Homo sapiens: one gene and its partners. The protein of the gene in region 1 interacts with the protein of each later gene in a pairwise test. Each region holds a gene or a part of one and is shown in the gene's direction. Other genes may lie near its edges.

The links. Proteins that work in one complex are often made in the same cells at the same time.
Region 2: the proteins of AP1G1 (region 1) and AP1S2 interact in binary tests that used the Homo sapiens proteins (3 or more experiments, as listed by UniProt).
Region 3: the proteins of AP1G1 (region 1) and BAALC interact in a two-hybrid assay, tested with the Homo sapiens proteins (one study listed by BioGRID).

The regions. Positions count from the first base shown.
Region 1 is NC_000016.10:71,742,827-71,749,859, reverse strand, and holds part of AP1G1 (AP-1 complex subunit gamma-1), read left to right. Parts: intron 1-1,481; coding exon 1,482-1,609; intron 1,610-3,167; coding exon 3,168-3,272; intron 3,273-4,245; coding exon 4,246-4,387; intron 4,388-4,589; coding exon 4,590-4,716; intron 4,717-7,033. UniProt on the Homo sapiens protein: Subunit of clathrin-associated adaptor protein complex 1 that plays a role in protein sorting in the late-Golgi/trans-Golgi network (TGN) and/or endosomes.
Region 2 is NC_000023.11:15,825,285-15,830,825, reverse strand, and holds the end of AP1S2 (AP-1 complex subunit sigma-2), read left to right. Parts: exon of another isoform or gene 1-767; intron 768-2,625; coding exon 2,626-2,634; intron 2,635-3,453; coding exon 3,454-3,501; 3' UTR 3,502-5,020; downstream 5,021-5,541. UniProt on the Homo sapiens protein: Subunit of clathrin-associated adaptor protein complex 1 that plays a role in protein sorting in the late-Golgi/trans-Golgi network (TGN) and/or endosomes.
Region 3 is NC_000008.11:103,136,728-103,143,745, forward strand, and holds the start of BAALC (brain and acute leukemia cytoplasmic protein), read left to right. Parts: upstream 1-3,997; 5' UTR 3,998-4,170; coding exon 4,171-4,330; intron 4,331-4,526; exon of another isoform or gene 4,527-4,615; intron 4,616-7,018. UniProt on the Homo sapiens protein: May play a synaptic role at the postsynaptic lipid rafts possibly through interaction with CAMK2A.

The DNA.
Region 1 (7,033 bases):
ATAGTGGTTTTGGTTATAGGAGAGTAGTGTTTAATGGGGAGTTGAGGTTGATTCCTTGAAAACTTTTTAGGCCAGGCGTGGTGGCTCATGCCTATAATCCCAGCGCTTTGGGAGGCTGAGATGGGAGCATCGCTTGAGCCCAGGAGTTTGAGACCAGCCTGGGCAACATGGTGAAACTCTGTCTCTACAAAAGACACAAATATTAGACAGGTATGATGGTGTCTAGTCCCAGCTACTCAGGAGTGAGACCCTGTCTCAAAAAAATTTAAAAAATACCCAACTTTTTAAAGAAGCAAACGCGAATTATATTGGAAAACCTGCCATTTTTTGAGATGGAACTTATTGAGCCATTGTGAGGTTTTTTGTTTTTTTTTTTTTAATAGAGTCTCACTCTGTCACCCAAGCTGGAGTGCCATGGTGGGATCACAATTCACTGCAGCCTTGATCTCCTGGGTTTCAAGCGATCTTCCCACCTCAGCCTCCTGAGTAGCTGGGACTATAGGCAGGCACCACCCTGGCTAGTTTATTCTACTTTTTTTTTGTAGAGACAGGGTTTCACCGTGTTGCCCAGGCTGGTCTTGAACTTCTGGACTCAAGCAATCTGCCTGCCTTGGCCTCTCAAAGTGTTGGGATTAACAGGCATTGCTGAGTGTGGTGGCTCATGCCTGTAATCCCAGCACTTTGGGAGGCCAAGGCGGGTGGATCATGAGGTCACCTGCAGGGTGGTTAGCCAGACCATCCTGGCTAACACAGTGAAACCCTATCTCTACTAAAAAGTAGAAAAAATTGGCCGGGCGTGGTGGCAGGCACCTGTAGTCCCAGCTACTCGGGAGGCTGAGGCAGGAGAATGGCGTGAACCCGGGAGGTGGAGCTTGCAGTGAGCCAAGATTGCGCCACTGCATTCCAGCCTGGGTGACAGAGCCAGACTCCGTCTCAAAACAAAAAAAACAAAAAAAAAACAAAACAGGTGTGAGCCACTTTGCCTGGCCCCATTGTGAGATTTTAAAACCACTTTAGGCCCAAGTCTCTGTCCTAGTGGACTGAATTACTGTTTCTCTTACCCTCTGGCTGGTAAACAAGAAGAAATGAGACATGTATCCATGTTCTTATTTGCACATTAAAGGACTGGCTTTAAAAGGGAAAATTGTGGCAACAACACTTGAACTCTGTATGTTTTTCTTTTCTTCTTCTGTTTCTGCCACTTGAAGCTCTAATATTGCCTCTCAGCCCCAGTGGTCATTTTTCACTCTTTTTACCCCCACCTGCTCTGGTTGATAGAACCAGAGCACTTTTTTTTACCCCCAACTACTCTGGTTGATAGAACAGCTTGGACAGTTACCCTGGCAAAGCACAGGTTGAGTTAGAGGCTTTTGTAACGGTAGGATTGTCTTTCTGGCTGCTTCCCCTGACTTGATATCAGATTTAGATGCTTAATCATGCTACTCATTCTTCATCGTCTTCTTTTTCCTCCTCCTCCTCAGGTAACAGAGGATGAAGTGTTGGATATTTTAGAAAGTGTCCTAATCTCTAATATGTCCACCTCTGTGACACGAGGTTATGCCCTCACTGCCATTATGAAGCTTTCCACTCGATTCACTTGTACTGTAAAGTGAGTATTGAAGAAACATAGGGTGAACAGGTTGTTTTGTAATTAAAAAACAAAAAAAATCCCAAAAAACTTGTTATCATGGAAAATTTCAAGCATAGACAAAAGTAGAGAGAATAATAACACAAATTTCCATTACTTATTTCTCCACAGTCACAGTGATCAATTTGTGGTTAATCTTTATTCATCAGCACTTTGTTCCCTCTCATTCTTTTACTCCCTTGTGGATTATTTTGAAGCAGAAAAGTTTAGGGGGTTTTGTTTGTTTGTTGAGACAGGGTCTCGCTCTCTTACCCAGGATGGGGTGCAGTGGCGCCATCATATTTTACTGCAACCTTGAACTCCTGGGCTTAAGGGATCTTCCTGTCTCAGCCTCCAGAGGAGCTGGGACTATAAGTGCACACCATCGTGCCTGGCTAATTTTTACATTTTTTTGTAGAGAAAGTGTTTCGTTTGTTTGCCCAGGCTGGTCTCAAACTCCTGGGCTCAAGTGATCCTCCTGCCCTGACCTCCCAAAGTGCAGGGATTACAGATGTGACCCACTCCACCTGGCCTAAAAGTTACGTTTTTAGAATGAGATTTCTAATACCTTTTTTTTTTCTTTTTAAGTTGAGAATCTACTTCCCCATATAAAGGTTTTGGTTTATTTGTATTTTATATTTCATTTTATTTTATGACAGAATCTTGCTCTGTTGCCAGGCTGGAGTGCAGTGGCATACAATCTCGGCTCACTGCAATCTCCATCTCCAGGGTTCAAGCAATTCTCCTGCCTCAGCCTCCTGAGTAGCTGGGATTACAGGCGCACACCACCATGCCTGGCTAATTTTTGTATTTTTTGGTGGAGATGGGGTTTCACCATTTTGGCCAGACTGGTCTCGAACTCCTGACCTTGTAATCTGGCCAAGGTTTTGGTTTATTATATTTTGACAAGTCTTAATAGGAATAAAATCATGAATGTTTTGGTGATTAAATCTTTTAATTCTCCTCTTTGCTTTTTTGAATAAAGTAGATTCTCAGGTCACTTTCCCACCCAAGCATATTTAAGGCCAACGTAGTTCTTGTAGTCTTTCTGCTTCACTTTTAAATGTGAAGTCTTATAAAAAATGGTATTGAATTACTTTTAAAATTCTGAACTGGAAGAATTTGGGGTCAACATTTTGAGGCTCTGACCCTTTTATAGATTAAAAATTATTTAAAAATTATCAAAGAAGAGAATGAACAGTACAAATTTCTTTTGTGGCAAAGTAATAGTTGGTACTTTTGTCTAGCAAAGTTTAGGGAGTGGCATATATATATGTGTTTTTTCCACACCATCATTGTTGCTGAATGGGGATGGCATATTTAACAGACAAAAATCTAGTGTTACAATGAGAATAGTATAATGCGAATGTCAGATAAATGGATGAAAGTAAAGTGTTTTGTTTTTGAAAAACTATATAAATTAAGAAAAAATGAGTATTTCAGTATTTTAACCAGAAAATTCTGGCTTATTAAACATTATCTCTGCTTATTTGTGAATTTTCTTTTGGGTATTTTATTTCGTTTGTCATTTTATCTATAGCCGAATTAAGAAAGTGGTTTCCATCTACGGAAGCAGCATTGATGTGGAACTCCAGCAGAGGGCAGTAGAATATAATGCACTTTTCAAGAAATATGACCACATGAGGTGAGCGAAAGAAACTAAGCAATGCGTGTATCTCTTAGCATCCTGACTAAATTGTCATGGTAATCCATAAAGAAGATTCATTCCTTGTGCTTTATTAATTGTTCCTCGTATCCCTATTTAGTTCTAATTGCTTGTCTGCTTCTGTTTTGTCCATCTTCTATTCTGCCTAGTCTCTAAAGAAATAAATTAACTCTCTTTCATTCCACCTCCAACACTTACACTTTTTTTGATATGGAAAGTTTGCTTTATTTTCTATTTTATTTAGTTAAGAAGTGGGAGGCCGGGCGTGGTGGCTCACGCCTGTAATCCCAGCACTTTGGGAGGCCGAGGCGGGCAGATCACGAGGTCAAGAGATCGAGACCATCCTGGCCAACATGGTGAAACCCCGTCTCTACTAAAAATACAAAAAAATTAGTTGGGCATGGTGGCGCATGCCTGTATTCCCAGCTACTCGAGAGGCTGAAGCAGGAGAATCATTTGAACCTGGGAGGCGGATGTTTCAGTGAGCCAAGATCATGCCACTGCACTCCAGCCTGGCGACAGAGCAAGACTCTGTCTCAAAAAAAAAAGAAGTGGGAGTTGTATTTTTTCAAGACAAATAATCTCATTCAAATTCTTTTACTGTTAACATTCTAGTGTTTGGGTCATCTTTTATTCTTCTATTATACAGTATCTTCTTGACTGTTAATACCTATGGATTTACCTTTCTTTCATCTCAGTCTCTCTACCACTGAAATATATGCTTTGGGATTTAGCTGGGCAGTCTGTTTATTCAAGATTTTTTTGTCTGCCCTTAATCCAGCCAGGAATTTAGGTCATGTATTCTTGTAATCTACCTTCTATTTTAGTGTGTGTGTTGGATGGGGAGGGGAGATAGATCTCCATGCTTGGGCTCAACATAGTTAATGGTGATTATTTTGGGTAGGGAATCTAGGTTAACTGCCTAGAATTTAACCACTTCAGATTCTTCTAGGTCTGCCCTACTTGAGAGAATGCCTGTCATGGAAAAAGTGACCACAAATGGCCCTACTGAGATTGTGCAGACAAATGGAGAGACAGAACCAGCTCCACTAGAGACCAAACCGCCACCCTCTGGGCCACAGCCCACCAGCCAGGTAGCCAGCCTTTCACTTGCTCATCTGGGGCTTCTTACGATTTTATAGTCCCTTACAGCTTGTCTCTTAGCTGAGTCCCTTTAATGTTCCTGGGTTGGTTGATGATTTCCTTCCTTATTTTTACATATTGAAAGAGCTTTGCATTAGATGTATACTAGACAAATCAAATAATAATGAATTGAGGTGTTGTTACCTTGTTTAGGCCAATGATTTATTGGATTTGTTGGGAGGAAATGACATAACACCTGTTATTCCAACTGCGCCTACAAGCAAACCATCTTCTGCTGGTGGAGAACTTCTTGATTTGCTGGGAGACATCAACCTTACAGGTGAGGCAGTCTGGAGCTATTTAATACCTGGGAAAAGATAGAGGCCTCAGGGAAAAACTAAACTGAACCCAGACTTTCCAGCACGTGAATCATTTGAAGATGGGAGAGGCTAAATCAGAAGCAAGAGTCAAATCTTCACAATATCCGGGTTATATGTTGTATACTAATAATGCTCTAAAGATAATTTATACGGATTTCTTAAAGGCAAACTCCTAATTTTGGGTGAATAAATTATTCATAGTGTTTTAAGATAGAAACTACTTTTCCTGGCTGGGCGCAGTGGCTCATGCCTGTAATCCCAGCACTTTGGGAGGCAGAGGCAGGTGGATCACCTGAGGTCAGGAGTTCTAGACCAGCCTGGCCAACATGGTGAAACGCCATCTCTACTAAAAATACAACAATTAGCCGGGTGAAGTGGTGCATGCCTATAATCCCAGCTACTCCGGAGGCTGAGGCAGGAGAATCGCTTGAACCTGAGAGACGGAGGTTGCAGTGAGCCGAGATCGCGCCAGTGTGTACTGCAGCCTGGGTGACAGAGCAAGACTCTGTCTCCAAAAAAAAAAAAAAAAAAACACACTTTCTCTTTCAAGCTCAAAAAATATATCCCGTATCACCTTTGCTTTTAGTGTCCCAAGACATGACTTCTTCTTGGTTCCTTCCCACTAATGGTTAGTTTTCAGTAGCTGTGGCCATTTGTGGAGAGATGTTAACCTGCTACTTACCTCTTCCCTTTCACACTTTCTGTAATTAAAGCAACTGAAGGGCAATCACTCATAATATTCAAACATAACTTTTCATTTGGGAATATTTTTTCTTCTGTTCATATATACCAGTCATTTGTAATTGACATGTTCAGCAATATGATAAACCCGAGTCCAATACAACTTTTATTTTTATTTTGAGATGGAGTCTTGCTCTGTTGCACAGGCTGGAGTGCAGTGGCACGATCTCGACTCACTGCAACCTCCGCCTCCCGGGTTCAAGCGATTCTTCTGCCTCAGCCTCCTGAGTAGCTGGGATCACAGGCACGCACCACCATGCCCTGGCTAATTTTCGTATTTTTAGTAGAGATGGGGTTTCTCCATGTTCGTCAGGCTGGTCCTGAACTCCTGACCTCATGATCCCCCTGCCTCGGCCTCCCAAAGTGCTGGGATTACAGGCGTGAGCCACTTCGCCTGGCCTTTTTTTTTTTTTTTTTGAGACAGAGTCTCACTCTGTCACCCAGGCTGGAGTGCAGTAGCATGATCTCGGCTCACTGCAGCCTCTGCAACCTGGGTTCAAGCAGGTCTCCTGCCTCAGCCTCCTGAATAGCTGGGATTACAGGCGCCTGCTACTGCGCCTGGCTAATTTTTGTAGTTTTAGGAGAGACAGGGTTTCACCATGTAGGCCAGGTTGGTCCCGACCTCGTGATCCACCCACCTCAGCCTCCCAAAGTGCTGGGATTACAGGTGTGAGCCACCACGCCTGGCCTACAACTTCTATCCTAAATTTCAGTGTAAAGTATAGCTGAAAGGTTAAAGTGTCTTTTTTTTTTTTTTTTTGAGACAGAGTCTCACTCTGTCAGCCAGGCTGGAGTGCAGTGGGATTATCTCGGCTCACTTCAACCTCTGCCTCCTGCGTTCAAGTGAGCCTCCTGCCTCAGCCTCCTGAGTAGCTGGGATTATAGGCGAATGCCACCATGCCCGGCTAATTTTTTGTATTTTTAGTAGAGACGGGGTTTTGCTGTCTTCTTTAAGAGGATAATGAAGAGTTAAAGCACACATGACCTTGAGTAAAAAATAGACATAGGATAACAAGTTGGATGGTTAGCTAAGCTCATTCCCACAGGCTGATTTTTTTTTTTCCTAATACAGTGGAGTCACAGAGTATAGGATTTATGTCTGTGTCTTAACAAAATTTCAAAATGTTACTTGTCATGTACTTATGAATCATTTACAAATGGTCAATTTCAAATCCTCAAATGTCAAAGCTGTACTGGATAACCGGCAAAGAAAAAACAACCCCACAGTTAAACCATAGCATATACTTCACCTAATATGTTAGTATTTCCATGTTAATATATATAGCCTTCATAATTATAATTTTAGGTGACTAATACTTTATCAACAAATTTGCTCTGTTTACTCAGTTCGTTAGTATTGGGTAGTTTGGCTTTTTTTTTTGGTTTTTTTGAAACGGAATCTTGCTTTGTTGCCCGGGCTGGAGTGCAACAGCACGATCTCGGCTCACTGCAACCTCTGCCTCCCGGGTTCAAGTGATTCTCCTGCCTCAGCCTCCCGAGTAGCTGGGATTTATAGGCACGTGCCACCATGCCCAG
Region 2 (5,541 bases), on another chromosome or scaffold:
AATATCTGTTGCTGAATAATAACTCTTTCAAAGCATTAATGCTGAGTTTATATAGTTCAAAAATTCTAATATTCATTCAGTTTTAATACCTAAATACTTATATTTTACTAGTGATGGCATTCTAATATATTAAGTCCTCATTTAAATACTTGATACTTTGTTAACTGTGGCATTATATTTCTGAATTTTAAAACCTTTAATATTGGTAACTATTGCATATTCTTTTAATAAAACATGCAGCATATTTTTTTATAAAAGGAAAAGAATTCATTGTTTATATCTAGAGAGCATAAAGCCTAAGTTAAGTAAGTTATTAAACAATAACTTCACAAGATGTTCAAATCGATTTATCACTGAAAGAAGATCTATGAAAATGTGTTTTGACCAAACTTAGTATTAGGCAGGTACACAGATAAGATTTTCCATTCTTAACATTCTCACTGTAATGCACGACATTTGAAGCACCTGGATGTGCTATCAATCAGGTGGGAAATTTAGCATTATATATTGGAAGCATTGAGAAACATTGGTCTTTCATTTCTATTTTTTTTTCCCCTCCTTTCCTCCTCCTGCCCCACAATATATTATTCATCTGGTTTTAATGCTACATAAATATGCATTGTCTCATGCCTGTTTGTGTTGGATGCCTTGTGCTAAGCTGTAACAAAATGTTGCTTCTTTTGCTGTCTGTATACAGCTGCTTGCTTTAAATTAGTAGATTCTGAAATAGCTTTCCTTGCATGTCTAAAATAAAAGTATTGCATGTACTTCGTCTCATGTGAATGACTTTTTCTTTTCCATCCCTCATAAAATAACGTTTTATATTTTCATTTTTCTAGGCAAATTTTTTAAATTGTGGTTAAAAACACATAACACAGAATTCACCATCTTACGCAGTTTTAAGTGTACAGTTCAGTTGTGTTAGTTAAGTTTATTCACATTGTTGTGCAGCAGATCTGCAGGACTTTTTCATCTGGCAGAACTGAAACTCTATACCCATTAATCAACAATTCCCCATTTCTCCCTGTCCCCCAGCCCCTGGCAACCACCATTCGACTTTCTGTTTCTATAAATTTTACTACTTTAGATAGATAATAGTTTTTCTGGGTAGTTTTGAGCTACAATTTCAGTGTGAACATGTGTAAGTTCCATTTTATATTATCACCACAATTTATTTTAAAACTCTACCTGTGCAAGTCTCACAAGAATAAAATGTGTAAATAATTCTTTGAAACTAGGCCTTTTAGAAAGGACACATATTTTCAATAATGCATATTTGATAAGCAGTATGATTCTCTACAGGAAATGCTATATAAGATTGCAGGCAGTGAGCACATGGGGAAAAGTCTGACCAGCTCCACGGAGTAGCTGTGGGGCATTTTTACATGGAGAAGCTGAGAATGTAAACTGTAGAATTCAATGGAGGCATTATTTAATTGATACATTCAAGGCTACATGAACCTTTAAACTACTTAACATTACATGGAAATAATTATTTTAAATTTTTCTTGAATATTTATGAGATTTAGATGTCATTCTCAGTGTATTTAATGCTTAAGGCTAAATATAAATGAAAGGGATTGGCTTACATCACTCTTGGGTGTTACATCATTTCCACTGGACTTTCTTAAAAAACTTTATCATGAAAACTTCAAGACTCACGAGTATAGGAAATAGTATAAAGAACCCTCGTGTACACATCACTGAGCTTCAAGAACCATCAACTTAATACTGTTTCCCCAACCACTCCCCGCATTTTTGCCTCAGTATCTTAGAGCAAGCCCTAGACATCTTGTCAGTTTGTCTTTAATACTTCAGTATGTGTCCCTAACAGATAAAGTACCATGCCCCACAAAATTAACAGGAATTAATAATTACTATCTTATGCCTGGCTCAATTTTTCCTAATTGTCTGAAAAATGCCTTTTTATATTTGGTTTGTTAGAATCAGATTCCAACCAAGACTCTCACATTGTATCTGATTGATGTGCGTTTTAAGTCTCTTTTAATCTTTAACAAATCGTCTGCTTTTTCCCGCCTTGCCATTTTTTTTTTTTAAAACGAGGTCATTTATGCTGCAGGATGTCCTACCTTATGGATTTGGCCATCATACTCATATGGCAATGTTTAGCTGTTCTTATATCCCTCATTTCTATTTAGATCTGTAACCTGACTAGATTGAGGTTCAATTTGAGGGGGCAAGAATACTTCATAGGTTAGACTCTTTTTAAAAAAATACCTTTTTTCGCTAAAGCTGATTTTTACCCATTTTTATTACTATGCAGACATACTAAAAGGTCATCATATGAGCTTTATAAGTAGAATTGGTGTATAGTACTTGCGTTTAATAATAAATGCTAAATCATTTCGATTTCAATTGTGTAACTATATCACCTAACATTTTTGAAGCACTTTCTATAAATTAGGCAGAGCCTTAATTCACTTAATCTCAACATATGAAGGTAAGTACTATTATCCATGTTTTCCAAATAAGGAAACAGACCATAGAGTTTAAGTAATTTACTTAAGATTACACCATGAAGTGCTTTACATGCAATTAATATTCTAAAGATTTATGGTTTAATATAATTTCTCTTCTCCTTGCTTTGTGCTGTACCATGATTAGGATGCGAAAGTAAGTTTATTACTGGATGCCAAAAATTTATATTATTTTCCATCATTAAAATATAGTGTTGCCTTTTAATTACAAAATTCGTTGCTAGTAATACCTGAAAGTTGGCCTCCTTGGTCCTTTATTTTGTGATTTGCAAAATCAGCCACTTTGGAAAATTATTAAATAATTTTTTCCTGGATATGCTTACTTTGTTTTGACCTCCTTTGACACTTAAAAACCAGTGCTGGTTGCTACATAGAATAAAAATGCCTTTGGCCCATGGCATTCTTTGCATATGTGGCCTCTAGTGATGCCATTGGTTGCACTGGGGAGGTCTGGGAAGATAGCTGTTTCTGAAGACTTGCCGCTGTGGACACAGTTAACTAAAAACTCCAAGAGGAAGACATTTCTATAAATGCATGTGACAAAAAGCATGGAACACAACAGTAGGCGAAGAACTGTGGGAACTCGGAGGGAAGAGGTTTTGAATTTTACCACTAAGATAACTTATCTTTCATATATATAATTGAGTAGCAGTGATTTCATAAATTGCCAGCAGGTTTGCACTGGGCTTGACTGCTTTTTGCATGACAGCAACGGCATCTAGCACATTGGTAGGTAATTAGCAGGTACTTAATGAATGCTGAAAACGTCCTTTTGTGGTCTCCAATTTTGAGGGCACAAAACCCTAAATAACCAATGGCTGTCAACTAGAATGCTACTGTGACACGAAATTGCTTTCTTGATTCTCTAAAACAAGCATGTTCTTCCATGTCAATGTTTCACATTCTCAAGACTCCCTGGATCTGCTTACCAGAGTCTCACATTTTCCCTCCACAGGAAGCTGAAACCCCACGTAGTGTTCTTGAAGAAATTGGACTGACATAACTCTCCTCCCTTGTTGATGACTTCTTGTGGCATTTCACACACTGTAGATGGTCACTCCCTTCATGTCCATGTTAGCTCATGGTGTAAGATGATGTCTTGTCAGTATTACTGTTTTGCTAAGCCGCTTCATTCATGCCTACACAATTTTTTTTTAAAAGGGAACTTTAGTTAATTAAGTGATAAGGGACTTAAATATGAATTAGAATGGTGCAGAAAGAGATACCTTTTCTGGATATTTTAAAGTTTAAAGGTCAGTTTCTCTTAATCTGATTATGTGCACATATGAAAATGGCACATCATATACATGTAAAATCAGGCAGTATACATTTATTAATTACTGTATTTGACAAAGGAAACTCTTAAATTATAATGTGAAACCTGGTTTTATGAAACCAAAGACTAGTGCAGCATTTCAGCATATGTAAAAAAAAAAAAAAAGGGAATTGACATGTCACATATCAAATGAATGGAAACTTTGTTGAAACTTTAAAAAGCAAATTTACTCCAAAGACTTGTATTGGAAATTACATACCTTTTTTTTTTTTTTTTAAAGGACTACAGATTATTTTTAATGACTAAATTGGAGTGATACTTCTTACACTAAAAATTATTTCTTAGGCATTCTGAATCTGGGATGAGAAACAGGATTGTTTCACAATAGTAAGCACATAATTTTTAAGGCCAAGGCACATTTGACTCCTGAGATGAATTTTTTGTGGTCATAATCAAATACTTAGTTGTTTTTGATGCCCCAAAATAAAGTGAGAATGGTAATTTGCCAGGAATTCTTCATAACAGTATCTTACAAAAAACGTGTTGCTCTCTTCACAGTATTATGTGTAAAGTCATTGTTTAAAGCACGAATGTTCCCTCTGGGGTACTTGTTAAAGCTAAATTTATTTTGCTTCCCTCCACTTAGAAGTGCTGCACACTTTACAGCAGCTTCCTTTCTTTCCATGGCACTGCCTAGTTAACAGAAGTCTTATAAAAATTTAAAAAGACACATTTCTTACAAAAAAGAGTTGAATGAGGTAAAATGGCATTAGATGGCTCTATATTTTTTAAAGCTATGTAATTGTTCAGCGTCACTTTTCTAAGTACTTATACATATCTAAACATGTCTTCATGGTTTATATTTTCACTTATATATGCTGGGCTGGATTAAGCTTTGTTGTGATTGTGACCAACATTCAGGCCACGTGAGCACTGTCTTATCACATCGCCAATTAGTTGTAATAAACGTTCAACGTACAAACACTGGAGTGTGTTTTTATCTCTTTCCAAAAGTTTGTCAAACTATGCAGAGCTGCTGAAGGAAGAATTTCTCATTTTTTTTTCAGTAAAATGTTGAAAATTCCCCTCCATTTGAATATGGTGGTTGTTATAAGCACACACAAGATACATGGTGGAAGATCTAAGGAGTCTTCATGTACTTCATTAAAAAATAACATGGATTCCATACTGAGAGCCTATCTACACATTTATTTTCAATCAATAAATGCTGCTTTTAAAACCTTGATGCAGTTGACTTTTCTACTCTTTCTGAATGAACAACTTAGACTGTTACTCAAAAGGTATTTCAAATCAACTGGATTCCTCTTACCCCCTTGTGAACTGAAGGTGCTAGCACATGCAACAGAAAGGGACTAATACTTGCAGACTGTACTACCTAACCTATGCAACAAATCAAATCTATGGTAATCATGATAGTTAAGGGACCTCCTATTACTACAGATAGGAAATGTTACATTCTAAAACTGGGCTATTTAAGAAGGAGGCAGGAACTACCATCAAATTAAGTTGCTAGTCTACTGGAAAAAAAGACGTTTATAGGTTTAAAAAGCCTCCAACATGCAGCTAGCTATTCACTGAAAACAGGCCTGTGGGTTTCTGCTAGCAATGTATAGTTGGAATTTTTGAAACATAAATAGTAATCAGGCAATATATATTAAAAAAAACTAATAAATTTAAGTTCAAGATGGACATTTATCAGGATAATGAACCAGTCAGTGGTTTAAAAACTTCCTGCCCTTCTACCCT
Region 3 (7,018 bases), on another chromosome or scaffold:
AGATGGCTGATTCTAAAGGCAGGTTTAGGTTCCTGCTAACCCTTCTGTTCTGTCCTGATTGTCCGCCTTACTGAAGGTCTGTTTTCTACAGCTCACAATAGTCGGGTAGAGTCCAGTGATGCCAAGCCACAGAAATGAGACCTTGGAGGGAGAAGCACTACAGGCCTTTGCTTCAGTTTCCATAGAAATGAGCCAGAGGTGGTACCAGTCACAGGGGTTCTTAAAGCCAGAGAGAATTTATTTTGAGAATCCCATCATATAGCAAATACCACTCTGCAGTAGTTTTTACAGGTGTAATTTATTTCATTGCTCTGGATGGCTTTGGCTCAGGCTTTCCAATGCCCTGTTGCAGCATTTCTCCTTAGGAGAATTCTTTTTTTGTTGCTTTCAAACTTGATGGAAAAAGATAACCAATTCATGCCAGTCAAGCTACAGATTCTGAACAGAGGGTTTAAGATAATGTATTACATTTTACATATTTACATTTAATTTATGACATTTATTCCTGAAGGTTTAGGAGAAAATTCAATCCCAACTAAAGAGCTGTAATTAAAAGAGCACGGAGCCAGCAGCCACAGGCCCCCAGCTCTGGCTGAAACTTCAGCTCTGCCAGAGATAACATTTCCTGTGTGACCTTGGGCAATTTTACAGCTTTCTGAGCTACGATTTCCTAGTTGGTAAAATAAAAGGACTGGATTGGCTGCTCTTTAACTTTTTCTGGCTTCTGAATTTCTCTGAATCAATGGTGTTACGTAATGCCAAGAAAGAGATTCCATGAAAAAATCTAACTGCTCTGTCGATGATGATTACTTAGAAATGGGGGTAAAAAAATTTATTTGCAGGAAGGTTGTTAGCAGTAACATCATAACGGAAGGAAAAAGAAAGGAAAGAAAAGAAAAAAACCTACCTATTTACCAAACTTCTGCAGTGTGCTAAGCAAATTCACAAACATTATCTCATGTGAAAAGACATAATAATTTCAGGGATTTCCCTCTTAAGGAAGAGAGATGACATTGTTGCTTGTTGCCCCAAAAGTGTTGTGATAGCAACATTCATGGAGTGTTTCTATGTGCCAGGCACTCTTTGAGGCCCTTTACACATACTGACACAATTTATTATTCCAATTTACAGACGATGCAGTTGAGGCATAAAGAGGTTAAGTAGCTTGCCCAAGACCATCCACTTAAGTAGCAGAGCCAAACTTTAAACTCAGAGAGTCAGGCTCTTGAAATTGCACTGTTAACTGTATCCCCACCTTGTCTTTTGCTATTCATTCATTAGGCAAACATTTGATGAGCACTGACTCTATGAAGGCATTAAGTTAATCCCTTTTGAAGATTCCAAGCATGTCACCATATCTTTGTCTTTAAGAAGCTTAAACTATACACAATAGATGATCAGAAATGTGTGTGAAATGAGTGACCACACTCAACCTTAGCCAGGCAGTACTTGATAACCATCTCCTGTATTCTGGAAATGTTCATAATTCCATTCAAGTAAGTAGACAGGGCCTGGCAAGAGGGGTCCCTGCTCTGGGCTCCTGCCCCAGAGGTCCCACTCTGGTTCTCCAGCCCTGGTCCTCTCTATGGCCAAGGAATCCAGGGATCACAGAATGCACGTACCTGGAGCCTGAGTCTCAGCCCCTTCTAACCTCCCTGTTGGGTAGTTGAGACCTTGCAACTCTCTTCTCCAAACCCACTGAGCCTACTTCCAGGGCTTGTACTGGAAGCAAACCCCATGAGGGCAGACCACATCCCCCAGGCACATGCTCCTCAGCCAGAGGGATGGCCAAGGGCAGCTATTTGTGGGAGGGGAGTATGGACAGACCTTAGACCCATGGGCCCACAAGGACCCGTGTGTAGCAGGACTGAACTGAGGATAGAAAGAGGAGTGGGTGGGTCAATTCCACCCACAATCCCACTGCCATGTTCAGTGCAGAACTCCAAAGACTGAGAGAACTCTACATTAGAACCTGGCCTTTTAAGTTTTTATGAAGATAACTTGTCAAGGTATGAGGACAGCCCATGTTTCAATTAAACTTGCTCACTTGGTTTATAGCTTTTACAATTTAGACATATGGGCATGTGGGTTTCTATTTGGCCCCAGGATACCCCTCCACTTCACCTCACGTTTACTCTGTTTCCTGTGCTCACCAAGCTCTAGCTCTTTCAGTTTCTTTCGTTTTCTAGAACTCCCCCAGGACGGTCTAACTCAGACACTCTTTCTGGTCTGTCTGCTCTTTGGGTGGTGACATCACGAAGTGGCTGGTTATGAAAGGAGCACTGTGCCGTAGAACTGAGGAAAGCACAGGCTCTGCTAGAGATGTTAAGTATTCTCTCTCCCTGAAAGCTGGTTCTTCTGAAATCAAAATATTCAGGGGGGAAGGAAAAGAGGCACAGGGCATCTGAATTCCAAAGGACTAGGGAAGCCACCACTTCCCGGATAACTGCACTCCCTCCACCTTACACCTAAAACAAGGTTGAAGAGTCCTGTCAAGGCCATCTCAAAAGGAGAAGCAAAGCCTGCAGAGGAGGCCAGCCTGAGTCCTGGGGTGCGAACGGGTGCTGCGCTCAGCATGAGGAGGAGGAGACCCTGGCCACAGTTCCATGAATCTTTGCTCCCTTCCACATTATGGATTCTGGTGAGTGCCTGCCAGAGGAATGTCTGACAGCTCTACCCTCAACTGGATCATCTTTAGCCCAAATTACAATAATTTAAGTGAATCAAATTACTATAAAAAGATACTTCATTATTAATTCACTGGACATTTACTGAGGGCCTACTCTGTGCCAGGCAATGCTCTGAACTTGCCCTACCTATTGGATGCTACGTGCTAAATGTTATAGACAATGTACTCTCGTACATTCTATAAATTATATAGGATATAATGAGTACTATATTCTCTATGCTTTACATGCTATATTAAACATCACACCCTATAGTCTACATACAATGGATAATATACAAAATATATTATATATGTATTATGTCTACTAGAACAGTCTTTTGCCACAATAGGAATTTAGTAAATATACATTGAATGAATGAATGAATGAATATGATACTTAATACCATATTCTAGCAGAGCTTGGTCATTGAAGAGTTATTCTTCCAAACCCTTCCCTTTCCTACCCCCCTCTTGAAGGCTAAGAAGATTTTCATCTTTCACCACCTGTTCTGGATTCTTGGAACAGGTAAATTCATTGGCCTACGCAAGTCTGAGCTCTAGGTCTGAACCCGCATGGACCTGAGGGTGCACCGAGAAAAGAAAGGCTGACAACTGGATCCCGGGAATGTCAAGGCCACCCTGGGCTTGAAGGGACCGGCCATGCCTCCAAGCCTTGCCCAGAGAGGGGGTTCAGGATGCTGCGTGGTTCCAGGTGATCTATTGCTTTCTCGAGTTTAAAGTTCAGAGGATCATGAAGTACCACAGCTGGAAGGGGTGTAAGTGACACTGCCTAGCCTAACTCTCTTAAAAATCATAGCCCTACTCCTGCCTCCCCAAATCAGATACGACAGGCATAGGCTCTGACTGTTCCTTAAGTCTTAGTGGCAATACTCCCTGACCAGTTTTGCGGGGTTGCTCCCAGTTCCATTGCTTTTGTAACAGGTGGCCAGAAAGCCTGGGGTCCCGTGATAAGAGTTTCAGTTCTTTCCAGGATGGATGGAAAGAAGGAAGGAAGGATGGATGGATGGATGAATGAATGAGCGGGTGAGCGGATGGATGGATGGATGGATGGATGGATGGATAGATGGGCCAGAGACTGGGAACGGTAATGCCGGCCAGACGGGTCCGAGCGCCTCGGGAGCCCCAGCCCTCCTCCGGCTGCGGGGCCGCTGCTCCTGCTCCCGGGCCGTCACGGAGCCCTGAGGGAGGGGGCGGGCGAGCGGGGGCCTTGGGGCGGCCAGGGCGCTGGGAGGGAGGACTGGGCGGTGGGGACCGGAGGGGAGGGAGGGCCTTGGAGGCGGAGAGGAGGGACGGGCTGGGAGAGGGCCCGGACTAGGGGCGGCGGGCACCGCAGGAGCTCCGCGCGGCTGCAGCGCGGGCGGGAGCGGGGACGCGATGTCGCCGCCGCCGCCTCCTTGCGGGCCGGGGCTGCGCCTCCGGGGCTGAGCCGCCGCCAGAGCCGACAGCCGAGCAGCCGCTGGGCGCTCCCGCGGCGCAGGAGGATGGGCTGCGGCGGGAGCCGGGCGGATGCCATCGAGCCCCGCTACTACGAGAGCTGGACCCGGGAGACAGAATCCACCTGGCTCACCTACACCGACTCGGACGCGCCGCCCAGCGCCGCCGCCCCGGACAGCGGCCCCGAAGCGGGCGGCCTGCACTCGGGTAAGTGGCCGGGCCCCTGCAGACCCTCGCCCGCCCGCTACCCCGGGCGCCTTGGCCCGGGCACTGAGAGAGGAGCCGGTTCCCTGAGGAATTGATGGCGCGGCGGGGGTGGCTGGGAGGAAGCAGAGGCAGGACCTGCCCACTGATCAGTGGACAGATGCAAGCCCAGGGAGTGGGGTCGACCAGAGCCCCTTACCGAAGGCTGCGCCGATGCCCCAGCTTCCAGCAGCCCAATGCTCTTTGGCCTTGTCCAAAGCTTGCTCGCTGGTCGGGAGACCGGTGGGTGGGAGGACAGCCCACCTCCTCCGCACACATATCCCTCAGCCACCCACCCCCTGATCCGCCCAGGGCCGCCTCCGCCCCGCTTTGGCCCATCTGCCATCCCCTGGCCACCTGCGTACCCAGCCGGGTGACTTCTCATCCATTGGCCACCTGGTGCCCCTCTCTCCCTGGATTTATACACAAGGCGCCTGCCTGGGATCGCCTGGGTGGAGTCTTTCTTGTCGCTTCCCCTTTTCTCCCTCTAGGAAATGAGCCCACTCGCGGGCTTCAAAGACCAGAATCCCAGTTTAGGTCAAAATAAATGCACCCCGCCCCATCGCTAGTTCTGCACTTTAGGTTACTTTTGGAGCAGTTGTTCCATAGCAAAGGACTTCTCTCCCTACCCTATGGTGTCCCAATGCTTTGCAGGAGGCAGGGCACACATGTGGATTTTGACTATAAATTAAATACTCTTGCCTAGGTCATTCCTCATCCAGCAGAAATCTGATAAAAGGAGATGCAAAGAATTGTCTGGTCAGGTCATAAGTCAGGATTTTATTTTATTTTATTTTTTTATTTTTTAGCAGAACAAGTAATTATAGCGCAGAGATGCAAACTGTTGCCACAGACTGACCTTTAATCATAAACATATTGGTGACATTAAAAGGAAAAAATCTCACTACTTATTACATGGATGTTGTCCAAAGCAAGGTCAATATTTGGATAAAAATGTTTTAAGTGTTTCTTCACCCACTGATATTATTGGCATTTTTGAATAATGAAATCTAAAATGGAAAATAGGGTTAATTTGAAGCATAATGTATAACATATGGAAGAGGAAGGAAATGCGAATTACTTTTACAAGGTTAAGAATCTTAAATCCATGCCTACTAAATAGAGCTGTCACTTTAATCAAGAATAGGTTTCTCCATTTTTAAGGACCAAAGCTGGCTCCTTTTCCACATTAACTTTGTGACTTGGTTTTATTTTAAAATTGAGGACTGTCTGTGAAAGCTGTACAATACATTACACTATATTTGTCTCCAGTTTTTCTGACTCACAGTGGCAATCAGAATGGTTATTTTGTATTGCCAATGCTTTTAGCAAGTCACCAAATGGTGTGTTGGCTGAATTCAGTGTCAGCATGAGGATAGATATGAGCCTTTTAGAGGGACCTGGTAAATGTTAGATGTGACAGGGTTTCCCAAGGAGGTATGGTACTTCTCAGCAGAGAGTCAAAGGCCAGAGATGTACTCCGAAGAAATAAGGGTGAAAAGATCTAGCATGAAAAAAATAATAATAAAAAACAACCAAAACCCCGTAAGTACAGCTTTAAGAAATGGTTGCCGTGGTGACTGGGAGTATATGGTGTGTGTGTGTATGTGCGTATATGCATATGTATGGGTATGAAAGAGTTATTATGGGATGGCTCTATATGTACATACATGTTCCTCACAACTTTCCTGACACTCCTTGATTTATTACTCTGCCATACTAATTCATATCCCATCCATCATGAGATCTGGTCACTGCAACAGGTGGGGCCTGGGACAGACACACTCATTCATGGTACCCTGCCAAACATGGGCCAGCCCTGCCAGAGAGGTGGTCCTGAAGGCCTGCATCCTCCAGAGGAGAAGCTCCACTTCAGCCCCAGGACAGCACCCTGAAATTGGCAAGACGCTTGTATGGGCAGGGTCATTTTAATTCCCTGGGAATTTCTGTTAGCCTCAGGGGAGAGGGATATTTCTGAAGACCAAGATTAAATCAAGGCCTTCTTTGGGGGTGTACTGGCATTCCCTAGGGCCTTTGGGAATGGCTTGACTTCTGTGGGTTTTTCAGACTGGGAGCTGGTCATCTTTAGTCAGAATGGGTCATCCGTGAAAGCTACAGATCTCCTGGGTTTCAGCCACCCTGGGAGACTGGCCAGGATTCTGTATTCCTTTCATCTTCTCTGCCCCCTCACTTCCACCTCACCCACCCCCTGCCAGTGCTTTACTCATGATTTTACTCCCAAGCTGCTGGGGGACACCTAACAGCCCCCAGTGGCTGCGTTGTGATAGGAGGCCAGAATGCCACTTTTTCCTGTTTACAGAAGTTGTTTTCTGATGGGAGAGGTGGGTAGGAGTAAATGAAAGAGCCAGTAGATTCAGGAGAGTCCAGACTGTGAAATCAACAAAAATGGCTTCACTACTAGAATTCTAGAGCTGGAGAAGGTCTCTGGAAGTCAGCCACGTGAGTCAAATGAGACTCTCAGGGGAATCATCCCCATCTGAACACTCCTTCAACCACTCACAGACTTTACCCTCAGCTCCCAAGAATCCCTTCTTTCTGGGACCTTAGTGATTCTCCTTTGGTGTCAAACTGAAGCCACCTTTTCTCCTGGCTACTTCAGGACTTTTGAGGGCTAGGGGAGAAGCTAATTCA